Linked DNA regions of Homo sapiens. The protein of the gene in region 5 purifies or fractionates together with the protein of the main gene of each other region. This does not show direct contact. Each region holds a gene or a part of one and is shown on either strand. Other genes may lie near its edges. The genes, in order: TAF4, NUDT5, MON2, EFL1, ROCK1, KDM4D and NAA15.

Region 1 (4,403 bases), on a different chromosome or scaffold from region 5:
TTGTGGGAGAGTGTCCCTTTTATACACTTTGATGCTGTCAGATTTCTTAAAGTAACATTTACCTTTTTTGCTGCAACACAGAACTACTTTTACAGCAAGGGCTAAGTGTGTTTATTTCAGTGCTGCCCTGAAGGCACTGCCTCCCGGCTGTGGCAGCAGGCACCACCTCACCCAGTGTGCCCTTGGAAGAGTGTTCATATGTGACTGCTGGTGAGGAAGGCACGTTTTACTTGGAAGAGCTGCTTCATGAGAATAGGGCTGCGGCACCTCAGGGTCTGCCAGTTCAGCCCATGGCCCAGAGAGAGAGGCAGGTGCCTTCCAAAAGGTAAACCCGCCAGGCATAGAGGCTCATGCCTGTAATCCCAGCATTTAAGGAGGCCAAGTCAGGAGGATCACTTGAGGCAAGGAGTTTAGGACCAGCCTGGGCTACATCGCGAGTCCCTGTCCCTTTTATTAAAAATACAAAAATTAGTTGGGCACGGTGGTGTGCGCCTGTAATCCCAGCTACTTGGGAGGCGAAGGCACAAGAATCGCTTGAACCCACGAGGCGGAGGCTGCAGTGAGCCAAGACTGCGCCACTGAACTCCAGCCTGGGCAACAGAGTGAGACCCTACCTCAAAAAGAAATCTTTCCAAAATCTAGTCCTATAAGAAATCCAAAACACGTTCGTAAGGAACATGGAGGCACTTGGGACCCACCGCCCTCTGCCTCGGTGTGGGGAGGAGGCTCCCAGCCAGCAGAGAGTGGGGGCCAACAACATAAAGACGCTCTCCTCGGCAAACAGCCTGTTACCTTGTAAGAAAAGTTCTTCTGCTGAGCTGTTTCTGATATTTTCTCTACAAGATTCTGTAGCCTTTGTTGCGTGGCATGTGATACATAACTTACTACATCTGGATGTAATTCCGTTATACCATGTTTTTTACCTAAAGGTCAGGCAAGAAAAACAGTATTTTAAAATCATTAAGCACAGTTCTTTCTTTACGGCTAATCTCTGATCCAGCAGTTACTGCTTTTATACAACCCAAGGGGAGCCCAGAAAGGCTGGTGGGGTGGAAGGCAGTGGTACCCATATTTTACCCAAGAACCACCACCAGCAACCATGTGGAAATCACAAACTCAGACAAAACACATGACCAGGTGTCAGGTGTGCTCACCTGAAGCTCCCATGCCCCAGCAGCGCAGCTGTTTAATAAGAACTCAGTCATTAAACACCAACGTACCTATTTCTAATATTCTTCTCTGCAAAGGCGCTTGGAGGAGGAAGGTTTCATCTTTACAGGACCGCGTTAGCGTGCCCACCAATTCAGAGTTCGTGGCTAATATTCTTGCACTTTCTTCTGACAAGTTTACTCCAGCCATCGATGCAACATCATTAATGTCATCATCGTCCCTTGAGGAAAGAAGGGAAGATCACTTTAACTGTACAAGGAATTCATCGGGAGGTGGGCTGGGGTGGTAAGGGCAGGAAACCCCACGTGGAAGGCAGGGCCGTGAGGAGGCCAGGCCTCTGTCCTCCCCGCACCTGCACCTGCTGCATCTGCCACAGCAGAGAGGGTGCCTCGCTGCTTTCCTGGAAAGCTCGATTGTTCTGCGGAAGGAGAGCTGTGAGTTGGCGCCGGGTTAACATCTACACACAGATGCGCAGGGGACTCAAGTCCAGAGAAAGCAAAGCCGGGAGCAGCGCGGGGACTTGTGGGGGTCTGATCTATGCAAAGCTTTTTAAAGCCAGAGGCAGCATTAAATTCTTTTTAAAGGCTCAGAAGTTGGAAGAAGAGTACGCACAATTTTTTCCTGAATCACCTGAAAGTTGCTAACCTGACTTTCCTCCACCCGGAACATTCTGCACGTGTTTCCTACAGACAAGGGCATCCCCTCCAGAAGCAGGATGCCATTGAGACCGGGCCATGATGAATGGCCCCTCCCCAGGCCCTCCCCCGTAGGACCCGGTCCCAGCAGCGCCTCTCCCTGCAGGACAGTCTGCATCCCAATCCCAGCTGCCACGTCTTGTCCGGCTCCTCAAGCTGGAAGGTTCCTCAGCCTCTCCTGACTCCTGGGCTGCCCCTGACACCTGGAAGGCACAGGCCAGCTGTGTGCAGGACGTCCTCTTCCAGGCTGACTTCGGCCCCCTCGTGAGGAGATGTGAGCTAAGAGTCCTGCCGGGAATTCCACATGCACGCAGCCTCCACTTGCCGCCTCCAGCAGTGGGCTTTGAACGTGAGGCCGGGGGCCTGCCTGGCGTCTCCTGGGGTCGTTGTGTCTCGGGGAAGAGCTCTACAGCAGTTCTCATGCCCAGTCCTCCTATGGGCTCCAGGTGCTCACTCAGGGTCTTGGCATCCCTGGTGGTCACGGGCTGTGGCTGGGCTGCACAGCTTAGGGCTCCAGCTGAAGGACCCGGCCATGGGAGGGAGGCTGCTCTGCTGACATCCACGTCCACGTCATGCCCATGTCCACTGCTCTCTGACACAGGACGGTCTCCGCTCATCTTGTATTTCCTTATCCCAGTCCCGCAATCAGCCTTTTCTCTCAGGAGTCCTTGTCATTTTAGTGGAAAACGGTTTTTAGAAGACAACATCTGAACACTAGGTGTGCTCAGTGTTACTGGGGCGTTACTGTTCCCAGGACCCTGCGGTGAACAAAGCTAGAAACTTACGGCAAGACCCATGGTTATCCATGCCTGCCGACACACTGAAACCCAGGGGTTTGCGTCAGCATTCCAATCCTGAGCCAGCCCACAGGGGTCACTCTCCTTTATCCCTTCTGCCAGGCCGCTGACTCCTTGACAGCAAAATACCAAGGCTTCCTGCAGCCTTGATTAATTCTTTCACCCGTGTATGTCCCTAAGTGCCCTCCCTTCTCACTGAAGTATCAGCGTCACGCTGGGCCCAGGCATGCTGGCCACCTCTCCCTGCTTGGGCTGGGACTCTGGCTCAGGCCACAGCCACTCCCCAGGCCTGCTATGCCCTGCCTGATGCCTTTAGGGATGAAGTGTCTGGGAAAGGGAAAATTCACAGTAAGACTTCCTGAAATACACACAACTCCACCGCCCCTTGATCACAACAGAGATCACTCCAAGACTCTCCCACTGCTCAGGTCCCATAAGCACCTCCCTGACTGAGGTGATGCTCAGACCACCTGCTTTCCAGGAGGCCCAGGCAAAGCACAGCAGTTATTTTTCTAGAAACAGGGCCTCACTCTGTCACCGACGCTGGCGTACACTGCTAAAACCATAGCTCACTGTAACACTGAACTCCTGGGCAGAAGTGATCCTCCTGCCTCAGCCTCCCAAGTAGCTAGGCCCACAGGCACACACCACCAAGCCTGGCTAATTTTTTATTTTTTGTTGTTGTTGAGTAAGGTTTTACTATGTTGTGCAGGCTGGTCTCAAACTCCCGGGCTCAAGCGATTCTCCCACTTCAGCCTCCTGTAGTGCTGGCACTGTAAGCGTGAGCCACTACGCCTGGAGCAGTACAGCATTTCTGAGGGTTCTGAAGTTGAATACATGGAAAGTGAAGCATTCTATACTAGGAATGCAATGAACTCAAAATACGATGTTATACTAAAAAATGAATTTCCTATTAGTTCATATAAAAATAATCAGTTGATTCGCTTTCTGGCTATGTGTATGAAGCAAAACCTCTTTGAGCCAACTGTATGGGAAAACACACTTGTGTGAACGTGAGGTCAAAGTGAGCGTGAAGCAGGAGCCTTGGAGCCCCGGCCGCCAGGGCCACGTGGGAAAGACCCGTGGGCGGGAATGGAGCAGCACGGACTCTGGACTCTTCTCCGCTCTGGCCACGCTTCTCCAACGTACACAGGCCCATTCCTTACCGAAACGAACCTCCCCCAGGCTCCTTGAGTTTATTTTTCTGTGCAGCAGCTGCTTGTGCCGAGACAGCAGAAAGGGCTTTGGTTCCAGGTAACACGGCGGGTTTCACCACAGGGACTACAAAACAAACACACAGTGGAAACCACACAAGGCTTTTATTAGATCAACTATGTGCTTTGGTGCTTTACAGGCTCAAGGGCACAGCTACCACTCTCCTAATTAGCTACAAGAAAGTTTCCAAAAACTTCATATTAATAACTCTAAATTACAGTACAAAGTGTAAGCTGTACCTCTCGAGCATTTATTTTCCTGTATTTCATCAAGGTTTTTAAAGTGCAGGAATGATTACAGATAAAGAAGCTAACCATGGAAAATACATAAAATTAAAAATCATACTGACAGTGGTGATGGTTACACAACACAGTAAATGAAATCAGTGCCACTGAACTAGATACTTAAAATGGCCAATTTTATGTAAATGTACATTTTACCCAATTAAATAAAAGCCCAATGGCAGCTGGCTCTGGGAGCAGCCCTTGGTGTTGAGCGGCCAGGGGCCCGCGAGGCCCTCACCTGG
Region 2 (4,403 bases), on a different chromosome or scaffold from region 5:
CCATCAACAGCCAAGTTGTGACAACTACATATGAAATATCTGAGTCCGCAAATGCATATATTCTTTCTTCTTCTATCTAGGGAAATACAGGAAGGATTAAGAATTTTTCTGTTAAGAGCCCAAATCTCCTAGAGTCTCAATTTCACTAATACACAGAGAGACACACTACTCCTCCCACACAAGAGCAAAATGTGCCCGAGCCCAAAAAAGGGAGTAGGAAAAATCTTTACAACTGTCTTCAAGAATGAAAGACCACCATTGTAACAACAGTCTATATATTTCTGCTAAACTCAGATTTATGTGGGGGAGGGAAGGGAAAGTGAAAAACAAGTTATACCTCCTCTGAAATGATATACTGTTTGCCATTCTGAGAAGATTCCGTTGGTTCTTGGCTCTCCATTTTCAAACGAGTCTTTACAGCCCTCAGGTGAGAAGTTCACCCTGCAAGATAATGAGATTTGTTCAGGCTAAAATTATTTTTCTGAATTAAACATTCGTCCACAGGACACTAGTCAAAGTACTTAAACGGCAAAAAATTCATCTACCATCAACGCTGCCTGTCTCAGTATGTGAGGGAACTGCCGCAGGTGGAAATGTGAACAGGGAGGCCCGGGGATTAGCCAGGAAGGAAGTGACAGCAGTCCTAGTCACCCTCAGCCACAACAGCCAAGCTCCTGCCATGCCTGTTCTAGGCACTTAGAGGCCACCCTTCTTCATCAGATTTTTCTTTTTTTTTTTTTCTTTTTTGTTTTTTTTGAGAGAGTCTCACTCTGTTGCCCAGGGTGGAGTGCAATGGCGCGATCTCAGCTCACTGCAACCTCCGCCTCCTGGGTTCAAGTGATCCTCGTGCCTCAGCCTCCCGAGTAGCTGGGATTACAGGCATACATCACCAGGCCTGGTAATTTTTATATTTTTAGTAGAGACAGGGTTTCACCACGTTGGCCATGCTGCTCTCAACCTCCTGACATCAAGTGATCTGCCCTCCTTGGCCTCCCAAAGTGCTGGGATTACAGGCGTGAGCTACCGCGCCCAGCCTGATTTTTCTGACTCCGAATCTTAAACTCTTTCCAAGGGAAGACAGAAGAAAGATTTACCACTCTCCATGCCCACCTCTCAGTCTTTTATCCATCTGTTACACCTAAACTTACTTATTTTTTGAGATGTAAGATCTCACTCTGTTGCACAGGTTGGAGTGCAGTGGCGAAATCATGGCTCACTGTAGCCTCTACCTCCCAAGCTCACGTGCTCCTCGCATCTCAGCCTCCTGAGTAGCTGGGATTACAGGTGCATGCTACCACAGCCAACTAATGTTTTAAACTTTTGGTAGAGGTGGGGTCTCACTATGTTTCACAGGCTGGTCTCAGACTCCCGGGCTCAAGCGATCCTCCTCCCGCCTCGGTGTCCCAAAGTGCTGGGATTACAGGCATGAGCCACTGGACCCACCTCCCCACTTACTTTTAAGTTTCAGCATGTATCAAAGTCATAGTTGCAGAGAAAGGATCGAGTAGTACTACAAGTTCTGTTATGAAAAGAGCAGGCCCTTATCCCATTTATTGTATATTATTATTTCCTCTTTCTTTATTCCTTCATTTTCGGACCTTGCCTGTCCGAAGGTCAAAGTCTTTTTTTCTTACCCACACACATGGTTGTTAATTCAGCTGTATATAGAATTATAGACCCAAAGCCAGTTGTCTATGAAACTGTAAGGCATTGCTTAGTTGTCTTACTTCTGGTGCTGCTGTTGAGAAGTCCAAAGCTATTCTTATTCTTGATCTTTTTGCCATGTGACCTGTCTTCCTCCTCTGGAAGCTTGTAGTTAGTCACTTTCATGTCGATGTTATTGTACTGGGAAGTCAAGTGGGTCCTTTCAATCTGGAAACTTCTTACTATGCTTCTTTACAGGGAATTTTTTTCTTGAACGACTTCACTGATGATTTCCTCCCCTGTGTTTTCTCTGTTGTTTCTTTTAAGAACTGTTACTTGGACCAGGCACAGTGGCTCACACCTGGAATCCTAGCCCTTTGGGGGACCAAGAGTCTGAGACCAGCCTGGGTAACATGGCAAAACCCTGTCTCCACAAAAATAAAAAATAAAAAAATTAGCCGGGTGTGGTGGTGGGCACCTGTAGTCCCAGCTACTCAGGAAGCTGAGGCAGGAGGGTCATTTGGACCCAGGAGTTGGGGGTTGCAGAGAGCCGAGATCACGCCACTGCACTCTTACGTTCCACGGTTCTCTAACCTACCCCACCTAACTTCGGCTTCAAAGAAAATACAGCCCACCCAGCATCAACTCTCTTCCCAACTGTCCTAAAGGAAAAAGTGAGTCTGCTCTTTGTTTCTTCTGGGACCCAAAGTGATCATACTACCCATCTGATCTTCAATTTGTCCCCAAGACAGCAAGCTTCCCTATTCTAAAATACAATCAATAACAAAACCAACTGTATGAATATTCATAAAGTGCGTTTACAAATCAAATATCTGATTGACTATCATAGGTAACCCTTGTGGCCAACCTGTGAAAGGTGAGATGATGTTTTAGGAAAGTGGCGGTGAGGCCGGGTGCGGTGGCTCACGCCTCACGCCTACAATCCCAGCACTTTGGGAGGCCAGGGCGGGTGGATCACGAGGTCAAGAGATGGAGACCATCCTGGCCAACATGGTGAAACCCTGTCTCTACTAAAAATACAAAAATTAGCTGGACGTGGTGGGGTGCGCCTGTAGCCCCAACTACAGGGAAGGCTGAGGGAGGAGAATGGCTTGAACCCAGGAGATGGAGGTTGCAGTGAGCTGAGATCGTGCCACTGCACTGCAGCCTGGCGACAGAGCAAGACTCCATCTAAAAAAAAAAAAAAAAAAAAAAAAGTGGTGGTGAGAGGGACAAAGACCCTCACTCCCCCGGACCTCATTTTCCAGTGAGGAGAAAGGAAAAACAGTGAGGAAGAACACAAAATTTATGTCAAGTGACTCAGCGTTTCATGAAGAAAGATTAAAAAGGATGAGAAGTGTGGGGAAGATGGGAAGAGTAATCTACACGGAGTGATCAGGCAAGGCCTGTTTAATTTGGTGACTTCTGAATGGAGACCTGAAAGCAATAAGGAAGTAAACCACGTAGAAGTTTAAATATTTAGAGACAGACATTAGCATATTGAAACCTGCAGCCCTACTAAGAAAACAGGCACTTATTCCTTTGAAAGTACCATAGATGATAATTTATTAGGTAAACTTTTTTTTTTGAGATGGAGTTTCGCTCTTGTTGCCCGGCTGGAGTGCAAAGGCATGATCTCGGCTCACTGCAACCTCTGCCTCACGGATTCAAGCGATTCTCCTGCCTCAGCCTCCCGAGTACCTGGGATTACAGGCTCCTACCACTGCACCCGGCTAATTTTTACATTTTTAGTAGAGATGGGGTTTTGCCATGTTGGGCAGGCTGGCCTCGAACTCCTGACCTCAGGTGATCCACCAGCCTCAGCCTCCCAAAGTGCTGGGATTACAGGCGTGAACCACCGTGCCTGGCCGCTAAAAGAGAGTATTTCTTTGGAATGCAATCAGCCTCAAAGGGAAACAGTATCGTGCAGCAATCCACTGATTCCGTGAATGACAAAAATGAGCTATTTCAAGAGCATATTCTTAACTATGAGATTCCCAAACATTTCAGAAGGACTGTAAAAGTACCTCAGAAATTTTTAGAAACAGAAAAGGAATGTTGTTTTTAGCACCATTTCAAAAGCAGAAGCCAAATAGTGCCATTCGGGGGCCAGTCACTGCCAGCAACACGCTGCAGAAAGAACGAGAAATGAGCTTTAAATTCCGTGCTTTGTAAGCCAGCGTCTCCGCCACTGCAACGGAGTTTGCCTTCACTGACTCAACGCTATTTCAAGATTTAAAAGCAAACTTTGATATAAATTTTATCCACTTCATTAGTTAGAATTTAAGGTAATTTGCATATTGCCAATATGTGTATGGTATGAAAAAGATACATGTACACGATGTTGAGTGTTCTACAATTTTTTTTTTTTTTTTTGAGACAGAGTCTTGCCTTGTCGCCCAGGCTGGAGTGCAGTGGCGCGATCTCCGCTCACTGCAAGCTCCGCCTCCTGGGTTCATGCCATTCTCCTGCCTCAGCCTCCCAAGTAGCTGGGATTACAGGTACCTGCCACCATGCCTGATTAATTTTTTGTATTTTTAGGAGAGACGGGGTTTCACCGTGTTAGGATGGTCTCGATCTCCTGACCTCGTGATCCACCCGCCTCGGCCTGCCAAAGTGCTGGAATTACAGGCGTGAGTCACCGCGCCAGCGAGTGTTCTACAATTTCATTTATGATTTTCCTTAGTCTTTAAAGTCACAAGCTGTTTTAATTCTCATAAATCGTTTTAACTCAGTTCAGTTTGAACACTGAAGGTCTA
Region 3 (3,478 bases), on a different chromosome or scaffold from region 5:
AAAATTTGGGTTTGAGGCCAATACAATTTCATGATTATAATACATAACTGATACATCTCAACAACATAAAAATTGTAAGGAGAAAGAGTAACAACAGTGGTATTACTTTCAAGAATTGTGTTGGGAACTAAAAAATAATTTCACAAAATTAGATAAATATATCCAGTCTGACATAAACACCATATGGTAGCTGCCTTAAGAGACAGGAGTTGTATGTTACGTGTTAAATTATGACACAGAGGTAGTAGTAAGAGATGGAAAGCAAATGAAATTTGCACAGTTGGGTCTGAAGCCTAATATTTTCTTTTTCTAGATAAAAATAAAATTGCAATATAGGTATGGAGTATTTTTCTCCATCTAGTAAACATCATAGAAGGAAGCAGTTGTTAATATATTGCAATGATTTTCCAAATAACGGCATGGTTTAGCAGATCTTCCCTGGCTGCACTGTTTATTGAATTTTAGTTTAAAATAAAACTTAGTGTAACTACATTCGCAGCAACTGAAAATGGTCTGAAAATTTAATTTTTTCATACTTGAGGGGATAGAATCAATACCATAGTACAATTAGGAAGGTTTCAATTGACCTCTGGGTGACCTCTGGGTGAACCAATCACACAGACACCAAATACACTCCAGAAAGACTCAGATATGAGAACTATAAGATTCCGGGTCTTCCATCAAAGACTGCTTTGCAACAGAAAAATGAAAATAGTTGAAATACATGGGCAATATGCTGCCTCAAATTATTCTTGTAAGTAGGCAGTGTCAATATAAATCAATATTAAGATGGGATAAATCTAAAAGTTTAAACGTCTGCCTCAAAAAAACAAATATCTCCCCCACCCCCCAAAATCATAAAAAACCAAAACCCTAATTAAAAATATTTTTTTGAACTAGAGATAGGATCTTGCTATGTTGTCTAGGCTAGTCTCAAACTCCTGGCCTCAAGTGATACTCCCACCTTGGCTTCCCAAAGTGCTGGGATTACAGGTGTGGGCCACCACGCCAGCCAAAACCCTCATTTAAACAGGTTTTAAATACTTTACTTTGAGAAAAGATATATAATCTCTCTACCCACATAACAGAAAAGACATGATTATTCCAAATTTAGGTGCTGAATCCATCATATTTATAGCAATCCCATTTTGTGAGCATCTTGGCTGCTGAATCCCGTGTATTCATAAAGACAGTAGGAGTTATAGTCACAATTTTTTTTTATTTTTAGTTTTTTATGGCACTTCCAGTTTTTGGAACATATTACTTTAACTTGTTCAGCTATTTCAAAATGGCAGGGGAACTTTACCTTGGCAAAAACGCAACAGTGGCCAAAGTGCAAAGTATTTCTACTTTCCACTTTGTAGTGGTAGAACCATGAGCAGTGGTTCTACCACTAACAGCTCCACTTCTTATGAACAAGGAATAGGCACAATTAGAGAAAGAGCTGAAAGAGAAGAGGCAGAGAATGAAAGAGGAATTAAAAGAGAAAAATCAGGGGAAAGTATAAGAAAGATGGTAACGTAAACATAAAATTTAACAAGGATAAAAACATAAAAGAGAGAAGGGGAGGGAAGAAAGTGATGTCCAAGAAAAAGGAAGAAAAATGGTCAAAGATCTCTCTTACAATATAGTAATAAATTTATCAAACAACTTGAATTACCCTGTCATTAAAATCAACTCCACACTCAAATTATGCATTTTTTCCTCTAAAGAATTAGTAACTCATTGATCATCATCTCTGTTTAGAAATAAGGAAACCGCTTTGAAAAGTCAACATGCCTAGAGTTAAATAAGAAGTAGCATCTCTGTCCATCATTGCCTCAGAATTAGTCGAGATGACCAAGAATATTCATATAGAACTTGCCACATGTTCTTTTAAATAGCCAACACTGTTAGAGCATTAGAAAGTATTGGATTTGTAAGACATTTAACTTCCTCTGAAATGGTCTGTATATAAATCAAGATACAAAGATATCATCTCTCTTTCTGAATCTATAAACACTTTTCATTCAAATGAAAGCACTATTCTACTTTCCAGAGATACAAAAACTTTAATTCAAGTGATCATGAAGTATTAAAGACTTTTCCCACTTTATATAAATTGGTAAAATACTATGTGGCATGAACTCCCATTCTTCTCATGAATGACAATTTTTTTAAAATAAAAATTCCCTCTAATAATGTAGATAAATACAACCCAGGAACACTAAGCATAGTAAAATGTGATGCTTTATACAAGATTAGCTTATCTGCCAAAATGCCAAACCTAAGTGGAAATCTAAGGAACATACCTGGCTGCTGGCAATGCTTTCAGAGATCATTTTTGTCTACATCTGTGGTAGTTTTCTCTGAAAAACTGTAATCCACAATATTCTGAGCCTGTACACTAACCCATTCCAAGGGTGGCACAGTTAGGGACTCCTGTAAGTGTTCTGCCTTGGCTAGACAGACTTCACCTACAGCAGTCTCTTGAAAACTTGGTTGCCCATCTGAATTATTCTGTATTTGGGGAGAAAATATTAGTCATTTTAAAATAACTACACTGCCCTTCATTGACACAAATGTAATAATGACCACCTCATTAATAAAGAATATACTTTTGAGTTGTTTTCTAACACTGTTCCATAACTTATGCTAATTCATCCTTAACTGTTTCTCAACTGATCCTTTGGCCCAATGGTTACCTGGGACTAGTGGTACCAAATTGTGACAATAAAACAAAATGCTCTTTAAAATTATACTGAGAAAGGACAAATAATCTAGTTGTTACTGGCCTGCTGTAGAAATAATTTAATTGAATATTATTCTCCAGAATAAAATATCTACACTAAATTGTTCATCTCTTTCTTCTGATGATACATACAAATTTAAGGAATATAGCAAGAGTTGAATCGATAACCATATAATGGAAAAAACAAGAAACAAGAAAGATGTTAGCTGTTAAGTGAATAAAATTAAAAATGAAAGCAAGTGAAAAGTGGTTCTAAGCTAGACTTTTTTATGCCTTTTGTTTGTTTTGGAACCTAAAAGGCTCCTAATAAATGTTACAAATGTATACAATAAAATTAACAAAACCTTAACACTAGTTATAAAGAAATACTAAAGACATTACAAAATGATGTATTTTTTTCTCCCTTGGCAGTGGTGGTAGCATAGGAAACTAAGAAGTAATCTATGCAAGTTAACAATTAGTTTATTTCCTTTATAATGGACAAAATGGCCAGAAAAAGACTTTATTAATCATACAATTGGTGGCATATGTCTGTTGTCCAGCAATATGAATAAAACAGGCACTGGCAGTGACAGCAAGTGACGATGTGAGGCTTAAAACTCATGGTATTGGCTGGGCGCAGTGGCTCAGGCCTGTAATGTCAGCACTTTGGGAGGCCAAGGCGGGCAGATCACCTGAGGTCAGGAGTTCAAGACTAGAATGGCCAAAATGGTGAAACCCCATCTCTACTAAAAATATTAAAAAAAT
Region 4 (4,403 bases), on a different chromosome or scaffold from region 5:
GGAATAGGATTTGATATAATGGTTAGCAGTGAATAAAGCCCCAAATAATTTTCTTTCTCAGAAAGAACCCAGAATTCACAAAAGCCCTTTTGTGTTATGAGTACAAGAATGTTGCCTTATTCTTTGATCATTTTCAGAACAACTTTGGTTACCCAGACTGATATGGTTATTTGCTTGAGATAAAATATGGCACAGGTTTGGATGGTAACACATATGAGCAGTTTAAACCTCATTTAGCAGACCTCTCATTACGGAAAGGATTCTATTTGTTGCAAAAGAAAAGATCTTTAGTAGTCATGTTTTTCCCCTCTCAAGATTTTAATACTTAAGATATCTGGCTTTCAAAGATCTTAGTTTGTTAGTAAATCAGAAGATGGTACAGCTTCTGCAAAACATACTAAACGAGTTTAAGATTTTTGGGTCTGCCAGGTGCAGTGGCTCACGCCTGTAATCCCAGAACTTTGGGAGGCCAAAGTGGGTGGATCACTTGAACTCAGGAGTTCGAGACCAACCTGGGCAACGTTGCGAAACTCAGTCTCTACAAAAAACACAAAAAAACTTAGCTGCACATGGTGGTGTGTGCCTGTAGTCACAACTACTTGAGAGGCTGAGGTGAGAGGATTGCTTGAGCCTGGTAGGCAGAGGTTGCAGTGAGCCGAGATTGTGCCACTGCACTCCAGCTGGGGCGACAGAATGAGACCCTGTCTCAAAAACAAGATTTTGAGTCTAGGAGACTTCACTGTTATTCAGGGCATTTCTCACTATCTTTACCTTTTCTTCCTTACCGAGAACATCACCAGTGGCCATGATGTCACATGTGTACATAGCTGCCATCAGGCGCTGAGGTTTCACTTGCAGTGCATAGCGACATGCTTCTTTCATGGTGGCAATTAGCTGTCCTGAGAAAGGTCCATAGCAGTCAGTGAGTGGAGATTCTCCTTTCTGTGATGTCCTCTTCTCAAAGGCCTCAGAGCAGCCATCTTGTAGCTCTTGGTTTTCATTTCCACCAGAACAGGTTTCATTTTCCTCCTGTCCCTCTTTTGCCAGATCACTTGCTCCTTGTTCCTCAAATTTACTTAGGTCCCATTTTTCCAGAACAAAACAGACACCCATGAGAGGCTCCTCACACATGGGGCCAGAGAGGGTTGCTAGTTGGAAGCCACTCACAATGCTATTGCCCAAATCTCGGTATCTACTGGCTTCTTTTGAAGCTTTGTCAGCTGGACCTGTCCATACTGAGTTCTGAAAATCTTCACTTTTATTGACTAGTATGTTGGGCCCACATTTTCTTGGGCCAAATGACCAGATTTGGTCAACAATGTTCCTCCATCTTCTCCCTGTTAGGTGTTGCTCCAGTTTTCCTTTGAATTCCCAAATTTTCTCTTGGGTCTTCTGATGAATCATGTGAGTATTTTCACCCTCATTCAAAGAGGATGTCAACTGCTCCATAGAACGAATCAAATCACTATTTTCTTCCAGAATCTGGGTGACTTCTTCTGGAAGGGGCATGGCTCGAACACTGAGCGTGGCAAGTTTATTGGGAGTTGTTATGGTGATTAGCCCGTCAGAGTCAACTTGGATTCCTTCAGGGATTTTGCTTTGATCTTCTTTCATTTGGTGTATGACTGCAACTTTTTGCTGTTTGCCTATTTCTTCATTGACCATGTCAACTTTTGGGGGTTTTGTGATTGTTTCTCTGAATGGAATAATAGGTTCAGATACACTGATATGAATCTTTGCAAACCTACAGACAAATTCAAGAGAAATAACAGAAGGTTAAAATCAAAATAGCATCAAAGCTCCTGTGTAGAAATTACTACACAGTGGAGATTCTGTAAAAACATAGGAACATAAAAATTATCTTACTATGAAAGATCTGCAATTTACATTATATAACATTCAAAAACTGCTTTCTTTCTGATTGAAAAGACTACTTCTAATGGGAATATACCTCCAGGGAAATCCTTGCATGTACTGGAATTTCACTTTTTTTTTTTTCATTTTCAAGATATATAAACCACCCATTTAGATAAGAATGTTTTGAGCAGAAAATAAATGTTTTAATATATGAAATATGAATGCTTTAAAACAGTATTTGCCCATCTAAGAGTGTGGAGAAGAAAAGCTCAATGATTAAAACTCTAAATAGACATAGAATCACAGAACCTCAGGATAGCTAGTCAAATCTTCACAATGTATTTGGCTTTGATAATGAGGCTTATAGCAAGGCTAGCATGATCCATGAGTTTGTCTAGAGCAGCACTTTCCAAAAGAACTTTCTGCAATGGTGGAAATGTTCTATATGTTTATTGTGATTGCTGAGCCCTTGAAATGTGGCTAGTACAGCTGAATAAATTTTTAATTTTATTTAAATTTAAATAGACACATATAGCTACTAAGCATTTGAAATGCGGCTAGTATGACTGAGGAACTAAATTTTTAATTGTATTTGATTTTAAACAGCTGCATGTGGGTAGAAGCTACTCTTCTGGACATCATAGGTCTTGAGCCCCAGTCTGCCACCAAGTTCAGAAAGCCCCTTTTCCCACATAATATCAAATTTGATATTGTTGTATATTGTATATTTACAATCTTTTTGTATATTCACAGGATATACAACAAGATGGACCCGACATTGTATGTTTTTAAAACTACTTTGATATTCAAACCTGACAAAGACAGTATATATACACAAAACTGCAGTTCAATCTTACCTAAGAATTCAGATATAAAATCTAAGATAAAATAACAAAAACTATGGATATGCAGGTGTGTGCATTAAAAAAAAACTTATTATGTATGAGGCACTGTGTTAAGTGTTTTACATGTAGTATTTCTTTAGTAGGCACTAGTACTATCTAATTTTGTAGAAGAGAAAACCAGATAAGAAAGATTAAGTAATTTCTCCAAATAGTCTGTAAGTGAAGAAGCTAGGATTCAAATTTAGGTCTGACTTCAGAATTCACACTCTCAGTCATTATGCTATACTGAAAAATGAAGTTACTCAGTACATTAAAGGAATAATTTACTACAACACTACGAAGTTTGTATTATAGGTTATATGAAAATTAATTTGTATTAGATCTGTTAATACCACATTAAAAATATCAAATAATCTATGTAGCCACTTTTAAATATGCTAAATTGGCATTCAATAAGATTCAATACCTATTCTTGATTTTAAGAAAAAAGCCACTTAAAAATCTTAGGAATAGGAAAATATTTCTAAAATTATCATTACATAGAGAAAAATATGCTCATATACTTAGAACACTCAAGAAAACCAACGGCAAAGCTTCTGAAACTACGAGAGAGAACACATCTACAACACTGCCCTCTTATTCCTGTAACATAGTCAAAAGAGCTATGAGCCACTTTAGTCCTTCTAATTCCTGAGGCTCCCAAGAAGTCTCCTGTAGTAATCATTTATATGATTAATTAAAACCACTCCAAGCTGTGGAAGGAAGTGTGTGATGGTTGCCACACTCACAAAGCACCTCAGGACCAAAGGTTCTTTAAGTCCTAGCAATGCAGAGCCTGTGATGACACTAAAAAAAGTGCGGTAGGCTCAGGCTACATCATGGCAATTTCCTGTGGCTTCCTGCTCTGATTATTACTACCTTGAGATCTGGATGCTAAGAATTCTGACAGTTTCTCTGGCCTGGAGACAATATAGTCTCCTTGTCTCCCATTCCTGGACATAATCCATTCCTGAAGATGTGTGTAGAAGTTGAAAAAGATTATATACTACCAAAAGGTAGGCTCTGTCCTATGAGAACTAAACAAATTCTATAACATTATACACATTCTTAATGTAAGCATAATTGTGAAATGTAATAGTCATATAGAACAGTGCACAAAACAAAAATCTACTGATCTATGATAACTTACCTCAAAGTGAACACCCATGTAAACTACATGGTATAGTCAAGAAACAGAACAGTCTTAGCCCTCAGAGGGCCCCAATGCCATTAAGTATGAAGGTAACTGCTATCCTGATTTTTATTGTAATAGCCTCCATTTTTTTTAAATCACCTAACCATGTAACCCCTTATACTCCACAGTTCAGTTTGGACTGCACTTCTTTTTGTTCTTTTTTAAAAACAGGGTCTTGCTCTGTCACCCAGCCTGAAGTGCAGTGGTGTGATTACAGTTCACTGCAGCCTCGAGCTCCTGGGCTCAAGCAACCCTCTTGCCTCAGCTTCCTGAGTATCTGGTATTACAGGCATGCACCACCTGCCCGATTAATTTATTTTTATTTTTTTAGAGATGAGGTCTTGCTATGTTACCCAACCTGGTGCACTATGTTTTGAACTTCATATAAATACAAACAAACACTTTTTGGGGGAAGTGAAGTGGCTTCTTCTGTTCAACATTATATTGTGAGATTCACCTATGTTTTA
Region 5 (4,403 bases):
CACACTGACTAGTATATAACAGAAATATTATAAATATGACAATATTACAAATGCTTACTAAATACCAAATGCTATGATAGTTGCTTTGACTATATTATTCAATTCTTACAACAATCTAGTACTTTTATCCCCTCTTATTTTTCTGAAGATGAAACAGCATTGAGAGGTTAAAATAACTCCCTAAAATATTTCAGCAAATACATGTCAGAGCCTAGATTTCAATCCAAGTTTAGGCCCTATACAAAGATTTGCTGAATGAATAAAAATGAATTAGGAGAGTAACTTGTTTTTTTAAAAGAAGTTCCTGCAACATACTAACATCCAAAAAAGTCTGGTCCAAACTAACCAGATATGCAATTGATACTAATAACACCTATTAACTCACAAACTAGGAACACTGGCAGAGATACAACTTTAAGGCTCAAAGATTTAATGACCTCAGGTCTTTTCATTCCAAGAGTAATATACCCCCAAAACAGATCAATTCAACTGGCAAGGCATACAGGGGATTAGACAGCAATAATCCAGATTCGAAAATGCTACCCAAAATCTGCTGTAATAACCCAATGTGTGGACTAACACTGTCAAAAAAGTTCACAACAAAAATTTCAGTTTAGCGACAGGGACAATAGTGGAATTAATGACAAAACAGATAAGTTTATGGGAGGAAGCTTGTTTTGGAATATGAGGGATTTGAGACTAACATGACATCCAAGTAGAAATGCTTACAAGGCAGTCAGATATTTAAGGTTTGAAACAAAAGACTAAAAATAAAGATTTGGGTATCATGTACATAGAGATAATAATAATTGAAGCTGTAAGAATGGATGAATTCTTCAAGAGAGTGAAGACAAAGATAAGTATGATAGGCCAAAGATTGAGGAAAAGAAAAAAAGAAGAATGAAAAGATGGGAAAGCACTAGGTCAAGAGAGCCCAGGAAGATAATTTAAAGGAAGAAAAACTCAAAGACTAACACCAGAAATTTCATTTACATTTATCTTCCACATTCTGAAAAACTCCCTAATAAGAAATAGTAGTGACAAACAGCACAGTGTTAGAACTCAACAGGCACTATTTGACTAATACTGGTTCCCTTCTGTCTCCTCCGCTCACCCGTTGCTACACCTCCACCAGCCAGAAGAGAAGTGGAAAGGTCATGTTCTTAACAGGCATCATGAAGCGATGTGCCAATAAATATGCTACAAGCAAGATATTTTCATGAAAAGTATGTCAAACTTCAAAACAAATGTATCTATAACCCTCCCAACCATTTTTGTTTTTCCTTTTTTTTGAGACAAGTTCTCACTGTGTCGTCCAGGCTGGAGTGCAGTGGCACAATCTCGGCTCACTGCAACCTCCCCGTCCTAGGCTCAAGCAATTCTCTGGCCTCAGCCCTCCAGGAGCGAGCCACTGCACCCGGCCTTGTTTTTCCTATTTAATTTACAAATCATAAGCATTTTTTCCTCTGCAAAGATTAAATAGACTTAACTAAACTCCATCCCTTATTCTGTTTTCAAAGGTACTCAAAATCACTGAGAAATTATTACAGGCCCTAGACAAAATAATTAGAAGATAAGGAAGTCCGGAAAAGAGAAATAGCTCCCGATAATCCTTATAAACTGTAACATGGACAGTAAGAAAGACAACCATTAGGACACTGGAAAGAATCTGACCTACAGAAAACCAAAGTTGACTAATTTGAATGCTCTAGGAAACAAGTGAATGGTTATCATAATGTATCTTAGTATTTGCAGACTATTTTAGCATTTATACATGATATGAAGATTGAACTTACTTAGTTCTTGAAAAAAATTACAGGTGTTCGAGAAAAGATTGGATAGCCACTTATCAGAGTTCTTCCAGCTACATTATTCTAAACTACTGCAGGTTGAGTATCCCTTGTTTAAAATGCTTGGAACTAGAAGTGTTTCAGACTGCAGACTTTTTCAGATTTTAAAATATTTGCATATACATAAGATACCCTGGGGATGGGGACCAAGTCTAAATAAGAAATTCATTTACGTCTCATACATACCTTATACACAACAACCTGAAGGTTATTTTTTGCAATATTTTAATAATTTTGTGCATGAAACAAAGTTCTGACTGCATTTTGACTGCAACCCATCTCACAAGGTCAGGTGGATTTTCCACTTATGGCGTCATGTCAGCACTCAAAAAGTTTCAGATTTTGAGCACTTCAAATTTCAGATTACGGATGCTATTCATCATTAGTGTCTCAACAAAAAAGCTGTTTAGTAGGTAAGGTAGTTTAAAAGGACATACACCAGCAAATTTCTGAAACCAAAAGATTTGGAAGTTTCCATTTCTAAGCATGAATCTAGTAAAGGAGGTAGAGAAGAAACAATTTGAAAACCTTATTTTTGGGATTACAAAAACAACTCTAGAACTAAAGGACTGCACGTGGCACATAATACACACTAATAAGTAAGTATCAGTTACACAAATCAACAAAAGTCAAAATAACAGAAAAAGGCAACCAATGTAAAAGGAGTTTTGTTCCTATAATACATGAGAGGTCCAAAGTCCAGATAGGGAAGAACAAGAACAGACTCACTGAAAAAGCTGAAGTCACCTGATAGGTCACCCTGAATGACACAATGAATGAATGAACGAACGAATGCTCAATGTTAAACATAAAACATCATGCGAAGAAAATTCATGCTAGATACTACAAACCCAGAAAAAGGATTTTTTGTCTCTAAAGGAAATTCAGTCTTGGGCCAGGCACGGTGGCTCACGCCTGTAATCCCAGTACTTCGGGAGGCCAAGGCAGGCGGATTCCTTGGGGTAAGGAGTACAAGACCAGCCTGGCCAACATGGTGAAACCCCATCTCTACTAAAACTACAAAAATTAGCCAGGCGTGGTAGTGCACGCGTGTAATCCCAACTACTCGTGGGGGCTGAGGCAGGAGAATCACTCGAACCCAGGAGTCGGAGGTTGCAGTGAGCCAAGATCGCGCCACTGCACTCCAGCCTGGGCAACAGAGTGAGATTCCATCTCAGAAAAAAAAAAAGGAAAATTCAGTCTTTACCAAGTTCAGATTGACGGGGTAATAAAATTTCAGTAACAGCTATCAATAAACAGCTGTGGAACTAAACAGAAAAAGAGGACAAGATTATAAGATTTGAAGGGGAAAAAACAACCAAATCTGTCTGTTGACTATTCTCTTTAACAAAATGTTGTTTTAGAAGTGTTGGGCTCCATGATACCTGGCTGTCCTAACTCTGGAGGCCTTGATGGCTTACCTCCTCCACTCTTCCTCTTTGTTCAACCTTCATCTTTCACCCTCATTTTTCCCTCCATTGTTTCTCCCTTTACCATTATATCAACTTGCACCTTTGTGCAAATGACTTCTAAATCATTATCTGTAATTATGAGCTCAGTTCTGTATCTCCAACAGTCTACAGGTCATTTTCTCATGATTGCTCCACTATCCCCTCAAACACAACGAATCTAAAATTGAATTTATCTGTAGGCCTATTCTTCACAAGCAATTTCCAAACCTGACTTTGCTATTTTTACCATTCTCCCTATAATCCAGGCTCAACCTCTTTAGAGTCATCTGACTATTGCCTCTCTCTTTGGTTCCCCATCTTTTCCCTGCCAATAAAGTTCCATTAATTCTTCTTTTCTCATTCTCATGCCCCAATTTTGGGCTTCAATCATTTCTGGACTATTACAATAATAACAATTTTAAAAAACTGTCCAATCTCACTGTCTCTCCAATCTTTTCCCATGCTAACCCATCTTCCACACACCAGATTCATCTTCTTCATTCATCCTAGCACGGTCTTATTTATAAATATTTAATAGCCACAACAGTGTAAAGGCAATCCAAAATCCTTAGCCTACCAATCAAATCCTCCACAATCTAACGCTAATATTTCCTTCCAACCTTATCTTCCTTGTTTCCCCAAACATGTCATAGCCAGTCATGTCTCCACCCTCTATTCACGTTATCCTCCACTCCTCTTGAGTACCCTCTACCTAAATCCTATCCATCCATTATAAAACATACTTTGGCTCTCTCAACTCACAGTGACTTCTTTCTCTCAATTTCCAAGAACATACATTATCTAAACAATCATCTGGAATTTATCACATTTTCTCAATCTGTGAAGTGTTTAGCTTTGTTTCTGTGTATATATGTGAGACAAGGTTTTGTCTTCCATTAAATAGATTGGACTCTCAGGGAAAGAGTCATGACTTATATTTCCTTGTATCCTCCACATGTAAATAAAGGTCCCCACCAAATGAAGCTATAGCAAGAGGCCAGAAGATGATTTAAAGAAAAAGAAAGCTACTAAACCCTCCCTATAACACCACTCATGTAATAAGGAGATCGAAAAGCAAAATAAAATCAAAAATATATGAAAA
Region 6 (4,403 bases), on a different chromosome or scaffold from region 5:
CTCCCAAATTCTGCTCCAGGGGTTACACTTCACTGATTCACAGAACCAGTGGTTCTGTGAACATCTGGTTCACAGAACATCACTGGTTCACAGAACACCTCCCCCTTCCTCCTAAAACTCCTACAACCTCCAGGGCACTGATACTTCTTTTAACACTGGTTCTTTTCTTTCTTCTGGGTTCTACCTCCTCTTCTACCACACACATGCAGACATCTCAAAGTTCAATTTTTATCCCTCTTAACTTTCTTTCTCTCTTAAAATTTCCTATTTATATTCAGGGTTTCTGTTAGTACCATGCTGTTTCCCTTTAAACATGTTATTTATTGTCATAACTTTCTCCAATAACTGACTCTCTCCTAAGCTTCTGCTCTCCTTCTCCAACTTAGATGGCCCAGTGAGCCCCTGAAAGTCAACTGGTTTAATACAAATTGATGATCTTTCTCCTGAAACTAAGTTACTCCTTTATATGTCTTTTATTTCTATCAAGGGCAATAATGTGTTATCGTAGTCACCACTGACTATTACATCTCCCTTTTCCCAGACATATGGTCAGTGCCTGTCAGAGGATCCAATGATAGTCTTCCATGAGGCCCCAAGGACATCTAGACACCCCAGGGTGTGTTCTCTTTATCTTCCTTATAGAAGAACCCAAGAATCCAGCTTGTCTTCCTCTCCTACTTAAAGCTGTCACTACTCAAGCGAGACACTGAGGATGTACAAGTGACAAGATTACCTGTATCATATGATAGTCTCCCAATCTCATCCCAATTTTTTAATCTTAAAAATTATTCTACAATGATTTTATTATAAATTCTTTATATTTTTGGAATATAAAATAAAATATTTCATTCTTTCTATTAGAAAACTTGCTCTAAAGAAAAGAAAAGAGAAAAGTGAGACAATTTAGAAGGATAATTAAATATCAGAAACTTAAATATCATGCTGAGGGTCTTTCCCTCAAGAAGTAACAAAATGCTGACTATGAAAATCACACAAACCTATATATTTTTTTGAATATACAAGTAAAATAAGCTTTGGGTTGAGCACTTTGTATCTGTTTTATAAACTGCGTTACTTCTTTTCTACATTTCTAAGGATTCTAGGAAGAATGATGCAATGTCTCCTTATACATATAGTCTTCAGATGTTGCATATCAAAAGAAAATACTACAATTTGTAAGTGTGACTGCGCTCCAAAAAAAAAAAAAAAACTGCTTAGAATTTGCCAGGTACAATGATGGAGAGATCCTTCAGTGTTCTAGCCAAATGTGTCACTTCTCTATGAGTCTTCAATGGTTGCTTTTGTTGTGAGACTACTTGCTTCTTTCAACTGGAACCATAGCTACCAGTAGAGAATAATTACACTGTCACTTGATACTCTTCCATTTTACCCTTACCCACAGTAATCACAATAAGGCAGAATTCGTCATCTAAGAAAACTTGACAGTTCTGACAACCAAAGAAAAGTATTTTCTTATCAGAATAATTAAAAAATAATACTTGATCCCTTAAAATTAATGGATTTCTGGAAATTAGAAAGTCTTTCTTCGGGTCTTTTAGAAATAATGCCTCCTAAGCTTCTTGCTGTGTGTGTGTGTTGGGGGGTGTTAAACTGGGCAAGTTAAGAAGTGAAGCTGAGTAAGTTTAACAGTCCCTTTCACTGCAGCCCTTGCCCAAACTGTTTGTCTTTCTTGCTGCATATGTATTTCAAATCTATTACTTCAAGTGGGGGATTGTTAACAAAATGCCTCAGACATCAGCCCTTGTTTCTTCTGACAGTCAATATCTAAATGCTATGTTTAATCAAATTTTTTTCTCAGTTAGAAAATCTACTACTTATTTAAAATAATTTATAAGCATAATATATTTGATAACTGAAAAAATTCTACTCTGTGTAGACAAGTGATTAAACTTATCCTGTATTATTGGACAGCTATTTTGTTTTTACTTTTGCACGATTATTACTAATCACTTTTACTTAAATATGTAGTCCGTATTTCAGTATCTAAAACAGTACATCCCGTAAAATATTGGTTGAATGAATGAAATTTCTTAGATTAGATACTTATAAATGAAATTACATTATAGAATTTAAATATTTTAAGATCTTTAATACACGTTGCCAAAACTTTAAAGAAAAAATATATTTTACATCCTGAACACTGATCAAATTTACTTTGAAAAAATATATATTTTACTAATTTTGGTAAGTTAAAAAGTTAGATCAAGTTTTAATTTACATTTCTTGGACAACGACTAAGGTTGATTTTGATTTTTTTCATAAATATTAGTCTTTTGGATTTCATCTTATGTATTGGTTCATATCCTTTGCCTGTTTTTTTCTAATAGGGTCCCAGGGTGTTTTCTTACCTACTTATATAAACATTTTACATATTAATTACATGAATATTTTACATATTAAACCCTTTTGTTAGATATGTTAATAGTTTTTTTTGCCAGTTTGTCATTTAACTTGTATTTCTTTAAATTTATTTAACAAAAATGTTTTTGACTTACAATATTTTATTTTCCTTTGTAATATTTTTCATGTTTTTCATGTTTAGAAAGTTATAATACTTCTTCATCTAGATGGAGATAAATATTATCCTATAGTTTTTTCCTTTGTATATGCTAATTGTACCTTTAATTCTGATTTTAATTATACCTTTAATTCTGTATTTCGGAGAGGGGGGGTTATTAACTTTTGAAATTATTGTGTGGGTATTGGTGTGAGCATGAGTATGAAGAGGATATGAATATGATTCTTGGTTCTTTACAGATGACCTGTTCATTATGTGTGTTGTTTATTTTAGGTTGTTTGTCTCTCTATCAACGTTTATAGAAGCTTTTTTTGAACCCATATTCTTACATTTTATCCATCTCAAAAATGAAGTTCTTTAATTTTAGGATTTTTTTTTTTTTAGTTCTTTCTTTGATTTCCTCTACTCCTTTTCGTCTGTGTATTAACTCCTCTTATTTAGATATTGGACCTTTCATGGATTAGACCTCTAATGTTCACCTGTTTTCCCCTCCCCCAAGTTTTCTATTCCTTTATCACTATATTTTATCTTCTAAAAAATTTCTTCATCTTTATCTCTAAACTTCCTTTCTCTTTGTCTTTTTCATTTCTCCAATCAAATTTTTAATTTCCAGTGATCATTTCTGTTACCTGAGAGTTCCTGCATGTATGTACATTGCTTTTCTTTCTTATTGTCTTATTCTTGCTTCATGGGAGCATTTCTTCTTTTACCTCTCTAGAAATACTAAAATCTCAATGGTTTTTGAAATTCTGTTTTGTTTTTCTCCCTGCATGGTCTGTTTCTTTGAAATTGACTTTTGTCCTTTTTATCTTTCTTTCTTTTTTTTGCTTTGGTCTCTTTCATATTTAAGGCTTTCCTCACATGTCTGGTAGCCTTTAGTAATTGCCTTATATAAAAAAGTACAGCACAAAAAAGGCAGATTAGAAGCTCAGGGTACATGAATTGTTTTAGTGATTATGCTTCCCTGAATGATATTCTAACTGGGCTGTTTCCTAGGTGAACTCCTAACACTGATATTTCTAGAGCTGGTCATATTCAATGCAAAAGATGCTTCAGTCTTTCTCCTGGAGAGTACAGGTCTGACTTCCCTCCCAAATGGCAAAAGAGGCTACACATTTCTAAAAGTACCCTACTTGTACAGTTCACTTTATCAACTTATTTTCCCTATGACAACCACACTCTCAAAAGTATCTGGAAATTCCCAGTCCAGAGGCCACCTTTTTCCTCACTCTAGAAAAAATGAAGCTCAATCTTCTGCCAGGGTGTAAGAGGGGCAGTTTATCCAGCTGCTTAGAGGAGGGTGGGAACCTAGGGCTCTGTTTTGTTAGACAGATTTCAACAAATTCTCCTTAGCCTCATTTTAACTGTCACTCCCAGAGGTACCTAATGCCATGACATCCTAAGCCTTTTGGGTTCTGTAGAGACAATTGTGTTGCTTCTTGGCTTTCCTCATTGCCAATTTAGGACTCAACTTTCCAGTGTTTGATAAATCAGTTTACACTTGTCCATCTGCTTTCCAATTTCCAAAACTGGCCACTACCTGTTTTCCTTTACCATTTTCTGTCTTTGTAAGTTCATTTCTTAAAACAAAAATCCTGTTACTGTCACTTTAGTGAGGTTTGGAAAGGGAACAAAGTAAATGATTGTGTTTAAACCACATCTTTATTGCTTCTTGTTTCCCAAATTTCTCTCTCAATTTTCTTATACAAACGTAGTTCCAGTCAAATGGTCCTAATCACTGTCCTTGACTCTATGCTTTTCTTCCCTTGCTTCACTTATCTCTTCCTTCTCTTTTCTAAGTTATAAACTCTGCCTTCCAGACCAATCTGAGGCTCTCCTACATCAGGGTTCCTTCTATACCAAC
Region 7 (4,403 bases), on a different chromosome or scaffold from region 5:
TTCCCAAAGAAAATAAATCACATAAAATAATTTACCTATTATACAATGGGCCGGGCGCGGTGGTTCATGCCTGTAATCCTAGCACTTAGGGAGGCCAAGGCGGGCAGATCAGGAGGTCAGGAGATCGAGACCATCCTGGCTAACACGGTGAAACCCCGTCTCTACTAAAAATACAAAAAATTAGCTGGGTGTGGTGGCAGGTGCCTGTAGTCTCAGCTACTCAGGAGGCTGAGGCAGGAGAATGGCGTGAACCCGGGAGGCAGAGCATGCAATGAGCCGAGATTGCACCACTACACTCCAGCCTGGGCAACAGTGAGACTCCGTCTCAAAAAAATAATAATAATAATAATAATTTACTTATTATACAATGTATACAGCCACCTAATAAGTATTACTACTCCTTTGCCTAACAATTCCCTCACCCTCCTCCTACACCCCTCCCCTAAATAGTTAAACACTAGGCAGGTGTGATGTTAAGTGCCCTGAAAAGAAAAAAAGTTTTATTCCAGACTGTAACTAACACTAGCTGTTGACCTTAATCTCAGTCTGTTTGCTTAATAAAAATGTCCCCACCTTGAAAAGTTTTGAGAATTAAGAAAGGACTCTAAATAAAGCATGCTGTGTCCAAAACGGTAACCATTCACCACATGTGACTATTTGAATTTAAATTAAGATTAATTAAAAATTCATTTCCTCAGTTGCACTAGCCATATTTCAAGTGTGCAATAATTACATGTGGCCAGGCCAGGCACAGTAGCTCACATCTGTAATCCCAGCACTTTGGGAAGCCAAGGCAGGAGGACTGCTTGATCCCAGGAGTTCAAGACTAGCCTGGCCAACATGGCGAAACCCCGTCTCTACCAAAAATACAAAAATTAGCCAGGCGTGGTGGCACGCCTGTAGTCGCAGCTACTCGGGAGACTGAGCTAGGAGGATAGCTTGAGCCCGGGAGGTGGAGGCTGCAGTGAGCCGTGATCAAACCACTGCACTCCAGACTGTGTGATAGAGTTAGACCCTGTCTTAACAAAAACAACAAAAAACAAACCTACACATGGCCAATGGCTATCATATTAGAGCAGATAACAAATATTTCCATCATCACAGAAAATTCTACTGTGCAGTGCTATTCTAAAGCACCTAGAGCAGAGCCTGGCAAATGGTAGATTTCTCATTTTACCTGGCAAATAGTGACAAATCACAAACATAATCATCATGCTATTTTAACTTCTCTCACCACTTTTCTAGGAAAGAAAAATTCTGTCCTTTAACACTTACAACTAACAATTTAAATCATTCAGGCTAAAGTCCAAAACTACATTTATTGATGTACAATATTTTAACTATTCCCAACTTAGATTTTTCTTATAACTGACATTAACATTTGAAGAGCAAAAAAGAGAGAAGGAAGCAGCAGCAACAGCAACCAACCTACCAATACTTGATTGAAAGGCATTAGGATATGTCCATCTTTTCCAAGCAGGTTAAAATCTAAGGTGTGGATTTTGTTCTACTCTGGCAACCTCATTTTTCCTACCCTTAACCTAGATCCTAACAAAGTGGTATAAATATCTGGTAACCTCCTCAAACTTTTAGATAAACAAATAGCATCAACAGTAGGCAAAGGCCACAATTTTCTAATGACTTAATTTTCCAAATAAGTTAAAAGTTTGTAATTACAAACAAAACAAAACAAAACAAAACAAAAAAAAAACCAGACCAAAAAAAAAAAAACCAGCTTCTGGCAAACACAAGTCTTCCTTAAACTCTTACATAGGACCAGGTGCAGTGGCTCATGCCTGTAATCCCAGCACTTTGGGAGGCCGAGGCAGGCAGAACACTTGAGGTCACTAGTTCAAGACCAGCCTGGCCAACATGGTGAAACACCATCTCTACTAAAAATACAAAAAAAAAAATTAGCCGAGTGTGGTGGCAGGCGCCTGTAATCCCAGCTACTTGGGAGGCTGAGGCATGAACCCAGGAGGTGGAGGTTGCAGTGAGCCAAGATCACACCACTGCACTCCAGCCTGGGTGACAGAGCAAAACTGTCTCAAAAAACAAACAAAATAAAATAAACTCTTACATAGTATATGTCACATTAAATTCATCCCATCCTTTTTCTAGACAAATTATCAGCAAGAAACATTATGCAAGCATTTTGACTAACTTAGGACAATGCTTTAGTCAGAAAACAGAAGAGTAATATTGGAAAAAAGAGAAAAATATACAACAAAACTGAATTTTAGAGATCAACTAGACTAGATCAAGCCAGGCAAATCCACTGCAGAAACTCTAAAATTTTTGCAAACTTATGTGTAAAGCAGGTTTCCATTAAAAATTTAAGGAAAAAAATGTTTATTTTGAAATACAAACTAACTGTATTTCCTACTTAAGTTTATCATAACAAGTACAGTACAACTAACAAAGTAGCAGCTCAAAAGTTGAATGCTGCAGGAATGATTTAACAAGTTACCAAGCAGCCAGGAGCAGTGGCTCAGGCCTGTAATCCCAGCATTCTGGGAGGCCAAGGCGGGTGGATCACTTGAGGCTGGGAGTTTGAGACGAGCCTGAACAACATGGAGAAACCCCATCTCTACTAACAATACAAAATTAGCTAGGTGTGGTGGCACACGCCTGTAATCCCAGCTACTCAGGACGCTGAAGCAGAACTGCTTGAACCCGGGAGACAGAGGTTTCGGTGAGCCGAGATCATGCCATTGCCCTCCAGCCTGGGCAACAAAAGCGAAACTCCGTCTCAAAAAAAAAAAAAAACAACAAGTTACCAACCTAGCAACACTTGATTACATAGAGCACACACATCACATTATGTCCAACATTTCCTTTATCAGACCGGGCAAAAAAAAAAAAAATCTTAAAAGCACTAACTTACTATCAAATCTCAAGAAACAGAAGCAATTTCAAAAAATCAATACTATCCTTTTGGTCAGTAACACTTTCTTCATTCCTAATGTATGAGAACAATAAGGACATTTTAGCTCCTTTACTCTTCCTTCATTTAGTGACTTCCACATTTCTCTCACATATAACTTATCAATAGATCTTCAGCACTGTGATTTTGGCAATAAACTTACAGGTTTTTGCCCCACTAACACTACCACAAAAAAATTAAGATGTTTAATCAAAAATTGCTATTATATGGATGGTTAAACACACTGTGGTACATCCATATCATGGAATACTACTTGGCAATAAAAAGGAATAAACTATTAGCTGGATGTAGTAGCCCTGTAGTGATCCCCCCTACTCCGGAGGCTGAAGCGGGAGGACTGCTTGAGTCCAGTAGTTTGAGGTTACAGTGCCCTTTTGATAGAGCCTATAAATAGCCACTACACTCCAGCCTGGGCAACAGAGGAAGACTCTATCTCTAAACCCAAAAGAATGGCAAAATTATACAAATAGAGGACATGTACCGGTTGCTGGAGCCTGCAGCGAGAGGGGATGGGAGGGCGGTGGGAGAGATAATGGATGTGGTTCTAAAAGGGCAACAGAGGGGGGTACTTTGGACTGAAGGAACTTGTTCTGTAGCCTAATTGTAGTGGTGCAATCTATACATGGGATAACGCTGCATAGAAGTAAATACAGTCAGCTCTCATTATCCTTGGTGTCTGCATCCATAGGTAAAAACTATTTTTAAAAATACAATAAAAAATACAAATTTTTAAAATACAGTATAACTATATAACAGTAATATTGCATTAGGTATTATAAGTAATCTAGAGATATTTAAAGTATACATTCGCATAGGTTATATGCAAATACTACACCACTTTACATAAGGGACTCAAACACCTGCAAATTTTGGAATCTCGCGGGATCCTGAAATCAACCCCCGACAGATACCAAGGGATGACTGCACCCGCGTGCGCGAGCACTCACACGCGTGTACAAGTAAAGTGGGGAAATCTGAATAAGACTGGTGGATTGTATCAATGTTATAATAATGAACCATGGTTTTGCAAGGTATTAGTGTTGGGAAAACTGAGTAAAGTGCACTGTATTATTCCTTAAACTACGTGATTATTACAGTCTTCTCAAAATTAAAAGTTTGATTTATTTAAAAAGTGCTAACACTTGGCCGGGTGCGGTGGCTGACGCCTGTAATAGCAGCACTTCGGAAGGCCGAGGCGGGCGGATCACTAGGTCAGGAGATTGAGACCATCCTGGCTAACATGGTGAAACCCCGTCTCTACTAAAAAATACAAAAAATTAGCCAGGCGTGGTGGCGGGCACCTGTAGTCCCAGCTACTTGGGAGGCTAAGGCAGGAGAATGGCGTCAACCCAGGAGGCGGAGCTTGCAGTGAGCCGAGATCGCGCCACTGCATTCCAGCCTGGGCGACAGAGCGAGACTCCGTCTCAAACAAACAAACAAAAAAAAGTGCTAACAC

The links.
Region 1: the proteins of ROCK1 (region 5) and TAF4 purify together in Homo sapiens (affinity purification with mass spectrometry, with the first as the bait; one large-scale study listed by BioGRID). This does not show direct contact.
Region 2: the proteins of ROCK1 (region 5) and NUDT5 fractionate together in Homo sapiens (co-fractionation; one large-scale study listed by BioGRID). This does not show direct contact.
Region 3: the proteins of ROCK1 (region 5) and MON2 fractionate together in Homo sapiens (co-fractionation; one large-scale study listed by BioGRID). This does not show direct contact.
Region 4: the proteins of ROCK1 (region 5) and EFL1 fractionate together in Homo sapiens (co-fractionation; one large-scale study listed by BioGRID). This does not show direct contact.
Region 6: the proteins of ROCK1 (region 5) and KDM4D purify together in Homo sapiens (affinity purification with mass spectrometry; one large-scale study listed by BioGRID and IntAct). This does not show direct contact.
Region 7: the proteins of ROCK1 (region 5) and NAA15 fractionate together in Homo sapiens (co-fractionation; one large-scale study listed by BioGRID). This does not show direct contact.

Annotation. Positions count from the first base shown.
Region 1 is NC_000020.11:61,999,332-62,003,734, forward strand, and holds part of TAF4 (transcription initiation factor TFIID subunit 4), read right to left. Parts: coding exon 4,400-4,403; intron 3,944-4,399; coding exon 3,829-3,943; intron 3,298-3,828; exon of another isoform or gene 2,483-3,297; coding exon of another isoform or gene 1,816-2,482; intron 1,589-1,815; coding exon of another isoform or gene 1,416-1,588; exon of another isoform or gene 1,397-1,415; intron 1,391-1,396; coding exon 1,221-1,390; intron 924-1,220; coding exon 793-923; intron 1-792. Other genes in the region: uncharacterized protein LOC105372704, read right to left, coding at 1,416-1,588, 1,816-2,482. UniProt on the Homo sapiens protein: The TFIID basal transcription factor complex plays a major role in the initiation of RNA polymerase II (Pol II)-dependent transcription.
Region 2 is NC_000010.11:12,185,892-12,190,294, forward strand, and holds part of NUDT5 (ADP-sugar pyrophosphatase), read right to left. Parts: intron 442-4,403; 5' UTR 401-441; coding exon 338-400; intron 1-337. UniProt on the Homo sapiens protein: Enzyme that can either act as an ADP-sugar pyrophosphatase in absence of diphosphate or catalyze the synthesis of ATP in presence of diphosphate.
Region 3 is NC_000012.12:62,595,308-62,598,785, reverse strand, and holds part of MON2 (protein MON2 homolog), read right to left. Parts: 3' UTR 1-3,478. UniProt on the Homo sapiens protein: Plays a role in regulating membrane trafficking of cargo proteins. Together with ATP9A and DOP1B, regulates SNX3 retromer-mediated endosomal sorting of WLS away from lysosomal degradation.
Region 4 is NC_000015.10:82,150,680-82,155,082, forward strand, and holds part of EFL1 (elongation factor-like GTPase 1), read right to left. Parts: intron 1,745-4,403; coding exon 786-1,744; exon of another isoform or gene 772-785; intron 1-771. UniProt on the Homo sapiens protein: GTPase involved in the biogenesis of the 60S ribosomal subunit and translational activation of ribosomes.
Region 5 is NC_000018.10:21,105,029-21,109,431, forward strand, and holds part of ROCK1 (rho-associated protein kinase 1), read right to left. Parts: intron 1-4,403. UniProt on the Homo sapiens protein: Protein kinase which is a key regulator of the actin cytoskeleton and cell polarity.
Region 6 is NC_000011.10:94,990,321-94,994,723, reverse strand, and holds part of KDM4D (lysine-specific demethylase 4D), read right to left. Parts: intron 1-4,403. UniProt on the Homo sapiens protein: Histone demethylase that specifically demethylates 'Lys-9' of histone H3, thereby playing a central role in histone code. Does not demethylate histone H3 'Lys-4', H3 'Lys-27', H3 'Lys-36' nor H4 'Lys-20'.
Region 7 is NC_000004.12:139,303,906-139,308,308, reverse strand, and holds part of NAA15 (N-alpha-acetyltransferase 15, NatA auxiliary subunit), read right to left. Parts: intron 1-4,403. UniProt on the Homo sapiens protein: Auxillary subunit of N-terminal acetyltransferase complexes which display alpha (N-terminal) acetyltransferase (NAT) activity. The NAT activity may be important for vascular, hematopoietic and neuronal growth and development.